Linked DNA regions of Homo sapiens. The protein of the gene in region 2 interacts with the protein of the main gene of each other region in a pairwise test. Each region holds a gene or a part of one and is shown on either strand. Other genes may lie near its edges.

Region 1 (2,785 bases), on a different chromosome or scaffold from region 2:
GCAAGATGCCATCTTGAAAAAAAAAAAAAAAGAAAAAAAAAAAGAAAGAATGATGGGAGTGGTGTTGACGTATGTTAGCATTCCTTGTCTTGCCCCTTTAGCAAGTTTCCTATATCAATAGGAGAAACAAACAGCAGAATCAGTAGCTGAAATGATATGCAGTGTGATGAGGAGAGTTGTAGTTAGAGACCTTTTAAAAAAACAAAAAAAAAATTACAAAGTAGACAACAGCCAGATGCTTCTGGTCATATTCAATTAACACTGAAGGATTTCTAGAAAAACAGTCCTTGAGATACCTAAGGAAATCTGAGAGAAACTGCCTGAAGGAACAAAGAAAGAACTTGTGGTGCAGTAATACCAAGCCATTGTTCTTGAAAAAGAGCCAAATTTCTTCCCTGAGACCATAAAGTTGTGAACAGAATAGATACAGTTCTTTCCCAAGGAGAGAAGAAATGAGTCACATGTCTGCAACATATTGATGAGGCATTAGCGCTCCATCTTTCTCATAATTGCCACTGCCTGTAATAGGTTTCATATACCAACATACATATGTCTGTCTTATGAATGAGACAGAGGGATATCAGTACAGCTTATGCAGTTACAAGACTCAAAAATACTAAAACAAGACTGCAACAGAAATCACAAAATACCATAATCACTCAATCCATTATTTATATATTATAGCCCCTTCCTGTGTCTATCATATTACATTACACTAACCTAAGAGAAAGAACCAGTCCACAAAAAGGAACCAAAACAATTATGGAACATTTCCCTTTATGGAACTGAATAAACACAAGCTTATGTTCTTTGCTTTGTCTCATCTAATATAGTTTATCCTGTCACTATTTCTCATTTTCTGTCATTCAAAGGATCTCAGTTTTCAATACAAGTGAAATCTAAGCACAGTGGCTTTTTATTTGACAATGCATAAAGTGTGATATTTAGCTGAAGGTCAGTGCTCTCCCACCCACACCTGCTTTTACCTTCTCCCTCCCCATCATGGAGATGAGATCTCTCTTATCACTGTATCTTTTCCTTCCTTAGAAAACCTACAGAGATTTCCGATTGCAAGGGGTCCTGGACTCCACCTTAAACAGCAAGACCTATGAAACGATCCGGAACCGTCTCACTGTGGAGGAAGCCACAGCATCAGTGAGTGAAGGTGGGGGACTGCAGGGCATCAGCATGAAGGACAGCGATGAGGAAGACGAAGAAGACGATTAGACCATTTGGTCCTAGAGTCTGCTGGGACAGAGTCCTGTAATCAGTGCATGTCCTTAGTCTGTTAGTTAAACCCATTAGGAATTTTCTGTCAACTACCATGCCCATGAGATGTTTATCAATACAACTGCCATTTTAGCTATGTGGTACCAAGATTAGCAAATGACCTTCATATCCACTGATTTCCTGATGTCCATGTCTATATGTTTACAAGCAATATGGAGCACCATTCTTTAAATACTGTTCATGGAGAATACATAGTCTAACCACTAGGCGTGTCCCTGTTATCAGCAAAGATCAATGATGCTTCATTCATGTACTATGTATGCATTGGTGGTAAATGGATGTGAGGGCAAGTACATCAAGTACATTCACTCTGTTTCACGTATGTGGATGCCAGTTAATTAAATGAGTACGTAAATAAATTAATTAAAACACATAGATCTGCTTTGTGTTTTTATTTTTATTTTTTGAAAAACAAAAGGCAAGTCTCCAACAATTAACTTTTGATGCTTTCTGTTCCCCTAAAACCAAAAAATGAACCCCTTGTGTCGTTGTTAACCCATCCTTTCATTTACTCATATAATTAGCCAAAAAAAAAAGGATGGCTACATACCAATGGATTGATTCTCTTAATTGCCACGGCAAGGGGGCGATCCTATCATGACTTAACATCAAGCGCGCAGTTCAAAACTACTGTCTTCTGTCAAAGTTTTCTCCTCTTAAATGTTATTTTGCTTTTACGTCTCAACTGTGTATGTAAAAAAAATGAATATTTAAATTACAACCCTAGACTAAAAATGTGTTTATAATAAGATGTGGATATTTCCTTCAGTAGATTGTAACCATAATTTAAATTATTTTGTTCCACACTGTTTTTTATATCTGTCATGTACATTGCATTTTGATCTGTAACTGCACAACCCTGGGGTTTGCTGCAGAGCTATTTCTTTCCATGTAAAGTAGTGGATCCATCTTGCTTTTGCCTTATATAAAGCCTACAGTTATGGAAGTGTGGAAAACTGTGGCTTCTCAATAAATATTCAGATGTCCTAAGAATATACGTTTGGGTCTGTCTTCCTCTGTCTACTTTGAATGCCAGAACTGAAACACAACAAGAAGAAATAGGAAAGGGGAGGGAAGAGGTAATTTTTGTAGAGTGTTCTTGAAACTGTTGGAGTGGGTCGTTTTCAAATGCTCGTAGTTCTCCATGAGAGACTGCCTAAAATTCCGTTAATTCAGACTCCACTAATTCAGAACCCGTGGGCATTTGGACATGTTGGACAGATTACACTTGCATTATAGGATAAATAAGGGTTTGCTAAGCAAGTAAGTAGTGTAAACGAGAGAAATGTTTCTCCTGTACGAAGAGAAGGCCAACAAACTGTTTTTAAGCACCACTTTAACAGCAGTGTTTGCATTCAAACAAAGTGTGTGCCAATTATATATGATTCTTATATATTTGTTAAAGCATTTTAAAAGATTCCCTAAGATATGGAGTAGTCTACTTGCTCCTCAGGCCCTGTCAGCAATATAATCACCTAGGTTTGTAAGAAATTAA
Region 2 (4,035 bases):
GCTTGACTTTCCTCATCTGTGAAAAGTGAATAGCAACACACACTTCAGGCTTAGCTGTGATTATTTAGTGAGACAATATACTTAATCTCAATGCTCAGGGTCTGATACCCAGTTAAGCGTATTGAATGCTGGCTGGTGCTACCATTATAGCATGCAGAAATGTGTACCACATCCATAACTATCACTTTTCTAGTAGCCACATTAAAAAAATCAAAAGGAGGCCGGGTGCCCTGGCTCACACCTGTAATCCCAGCCCTTCGGAAGGCCGAGGCAGGTGGATCACCTAAGGTCAGGAATTTGAGACCAGCCTAGCCAACATGGTGAAACCCCATCTCTACTAATAATACAAAAATTAGCTGGGTGTGCTGGCGCACACCTGTAACTCCAACTACTTGGGAGGCTGAGAAAGGAGAATCGCTAGAATTTAGGAGGCAGAGGTTGCAGTGAGCTGAGATCATGCCTCTGTACTCCAACCTGGGAGACAGAGCAAGAGACTCTGTCTCAAAAAAAAAAAAAAATCAAAAGGAACAGGTGAAATTAAGTATTTTACTTTACCCAAGATATACAAAATATCATCAGTTCCATATATAAGGAATATACAATTATTAATGTGGCATTATCTTTTCCTTCTACCAAGTCTTTGAAATCCGGTAGTTTACATGTATAGCACACCTCAATCCAGACTAGCCTCATTTCCTGTGCTCAAGAGCCACATGTGGCTTGTGGTGACTGCACTGGACGGTGCGGCTGTAGACCTCTAGCTACCCCAGCAAGCAGAGTAGATCCATACGTCTCTCCCTAAGTATCACATTCTCCCACTACAGAAATCAGAAATGATCTTCTCATATAGTACTAAGTTAAATTCACATGCTGATAGTTTTTCAGCCCCTTCTACTTCAGCCTTCAGATTACTAACAAGTAGACAAGTCGGGCACGGTGGGTCATGCGTGTAATCCCAGCACTTTGGGAGGCGGAGGTGGGTGGATCACTTGAGGTCAGGAGTTCAAGACCAGGCTGGCCAACATGGTGAAACCCTGTCTCTACTGAAAATACAAAAATTAGCTGGGCATGGTAGCAGGTGCTTATAATCCCAGCTAGTCACTCAGGAGGCTGAGGCAGGAGAATCGCTTGAACCTGGGAGGCAGAGGTTGCAGTGAGTTGAAATGTCACACCACTGCACTGCAGCTAGGGAGACAGAGGTTGCAGTGAGTTGAAATCTCACACCACTGCACTGCAGCTTGGGAGACAGAGCAAGACTCTGTCTTTAAAAAAAAAAAAAAAAAAAAAGAATAATAGACAAGTTTCTGTGATGCACAATACACAACAATTTTAGTGATGATCCCCAAACACTAAGCACAGGGGTCTGTGTATTCGTAGTGAAAAATGACCAGATGACAATGAAGGAACTTCTAAGTGATAAGCTAGAGGGGGTCAAGGAATGGCAGGGGTGGCCTATGATGTTTTTAATGAAATGAACAACCTTCAAAACCACCGTGTGGCTAAGAACTGCTAAGAAAAAGCAGCACTTAGCTCAGTACTAACCAGAAAGGCGGGAGAAGGGGAGGCAGGGAGCACAAGCCTTCAGGGATCAGATGCACGAGTGACCTGTCAACCCACAAGGGTCATGGGCTTAGCAGGTCTGCAGCACAGATAAGCACCTCTGGCAGCACCAGCCATGACAGCATTGCTTTGGACGGTCTATGGCTTTATCTTCAAAGACAGCGCAAGATGAAAGAGAAGTGATGGGATTTTAGGGGAAGTGGGAGTAACTTTTTCCCTTTCTGTAGTCAGAAGAGGAACTAATTTAATGCAAAATATATTTTTCCAAGTTTTCAATTTAAGGGAGTAATACACTTTTGACGTGAGATATTGATAGAACTTTCCCCACTTATATTAACATACTTTTCTCATGATCATTTGACTAACAAAGTTAACACAGGGTTTCTGAGAGGTAGATTCAAAACCCTACAAGCGAGAAATGTAAGCAAAGAAACTGAAATTATTATTTTAAGTCATCACAAGGAGACCAATTCAGCAAACACGAGAAACCCAAAGTCTAACAGAGTCTGGGCCATTGACTCTAGTGGCAAGAACCCTTTGGCTGCTAGTCCCCAAGGTCACCCCATCACACTAATATATGTTATGTTCACAGTGAACATGGTGCCCAGAAGAGACCCAATTATATCTGAAAAACTCTGACTGGGGAATCCAAGAAGGTGCATAAACCAGTTTAGAAAGAAAAAGAGTTATGTTTCAGTTTGGCCATGTTATTTGTTGGAGGAAAAGTTGTATTTTGGATAGTGCAGAATAATGTAAAATCCAACAGAACTGGGCATCTATTGGTGGTATAACCTTGCATATATTACTCAACTTATCTAAGTTTCATGGCCAGCTTCAGTGGCTCAGGCCTGTAATCCCAGCACTTTGGGAGGCCCAGGTGGGCAGATCGTTTGAGGTCTGGGGTTCAAGACCAGCCTGGCCAACATGGAGAAACCCCACCTCTACTAAAAATTCAAAAATTAGCTGGGTGTGGTGGCACATGCCTGTAATCCCAGCTACTTGGGAGGCTGAGGCAGGAGAATTGCTTGAACCCGGGAGACGAAGGTTGCATTGAGCCAAGATTGTACCACTGCACTCCAACCAGGGCGACAGAGTGAGACTCCATCTCAAACAAACAAACAAGCAAAAAAAAAAATGAACTTCTCTAAGTCTCATCATCTGTAAAACAGGACTGTCACTGCTGACTTTGCAGAAGTTTTGTGAAGGTTAGGCATTATATGCATAAATGTGCTTCACATAGTGTCTGAAACAGGAGGTGTTTCATAAATAGTTGTATTGATCATAACAAGAGGAAATGACATATTTCTGTTTATTTCCTTGTCATGATAAAGGCATCACTGGAAAAAAGTTTTAATAAAAGACAGTAAAAAGTAAAGGACGCTACACTGACCTCCTTTGTGAACCTGGGCATATACCAGGGATGCAAGAGAGATTCATTTTCTCAATCTTTGAAACCATATGTGATTTTACAAAATTTTATTTTCCTGGTTTAATGAAACATGAAAAGAGACGGTCTTAGATGCCTCTGCAAGTGACCTTGAAAAGTGTGCTGTGTTTTCACAACTTTGGTATTCACCCATGACAGACTTCGCATGTAAACAGCAAGGCGGGGGTGTGGGGGTTAGTGAGAACGGAGTGAGGAGGGTGGACAATGTGTATTTTTCTGTGTCTGTATGTGTATATGCTTTAAGTCTTTTTTTTTTTTTTTTTTTTTTTGACACACAGTCTCACTCTGTCACCCAGGGTGGAGTGCAGAGGTGTGATTTCAGTTCAGTGTGGCCTCGATCTCCTGAGCTCAAGCAATTACACCACCTCAGCCTCCCAAGTAGTTGGGACTATAGGCATGTACCACCATGCCCAGCTAATTTTTTATTTTTCCTAAAGAAAAGGTCTCACTATATTTCCAGGCTGGTCAGAACTCCTGGACTCAAGTGATCCTCCTACCTCGGCCACCCAAAGTGCTGCAATGACAGGCATGAGCCACTGCACCTTGTCTGCTTTAAGTCTTAATGTACAAAGATTTCCTCCCCCATGGTCTCAAAAGAACCCTCTCAAACTACCAGAGATTCCTTTGATAACGAGGAAAAGTTTACATCTGAGAAACTCATTCACACTAAAAAAAGATAGTATTATGATTTTTTTCCTTATAGCAATTCCTTACATTTTAACAGGAGGTGTTCCCTAAAAAGATACCTCAAAGAAAAATCTCTGAGGTCTAAGAAATGCAAACACAATTGCTATAAATATACTGACACAAGAACTTTGTGTTCTAGTAGTAGCATATTAGGAACCAGTAACAATAAAGGAGATAGAAACCTTTCTTAATACCCCTCAAATCAAACCTCATAGGTGACTTTTTAATACAGCTTCAGGTTAGTCTGGTTTCAAGTAAAAGATTTCCTCATAGCTATGCAACTCCATGGTGAATGCTGTGTGTGTGTGTGTAGACTTCAGGTGGACATACTGCACTATTAG

What was found.
Region 1: the proteins of SH2D4A (region 2) and CADPS interact in a two-hybrid assay, tested with the Homo sapiens proteins (one large-scale study listed by BioGRID).

The regions. Positions count from the first base shown.
Region 1 is NC_000003.12:62,397,848-62,400,632, reverse strand, and holds the end of CADPS (calcium-dependent secretion activator 1), read left to right. Parts: intron 1-1,047; coding exon 1,048-1,227; 3' UTR 1,228-2,285; downstream 2,286-2,785.
Region 2 is NC_000008.11:19,319,865-19,323,899, reverse strand, and holds part of SH2D4A (SH2 domain-containing protein 4A), read right to left. Parts: intron 1-4,035. UniProt on the Homo sapiens protein: Inhibits estrogen-induced cell proliferation by competing with PLCG for binding to ESR1, blocking the effect of estrogen on PLCG and repressing estrogen-induced proliferation. May play a role in T-cell development and function.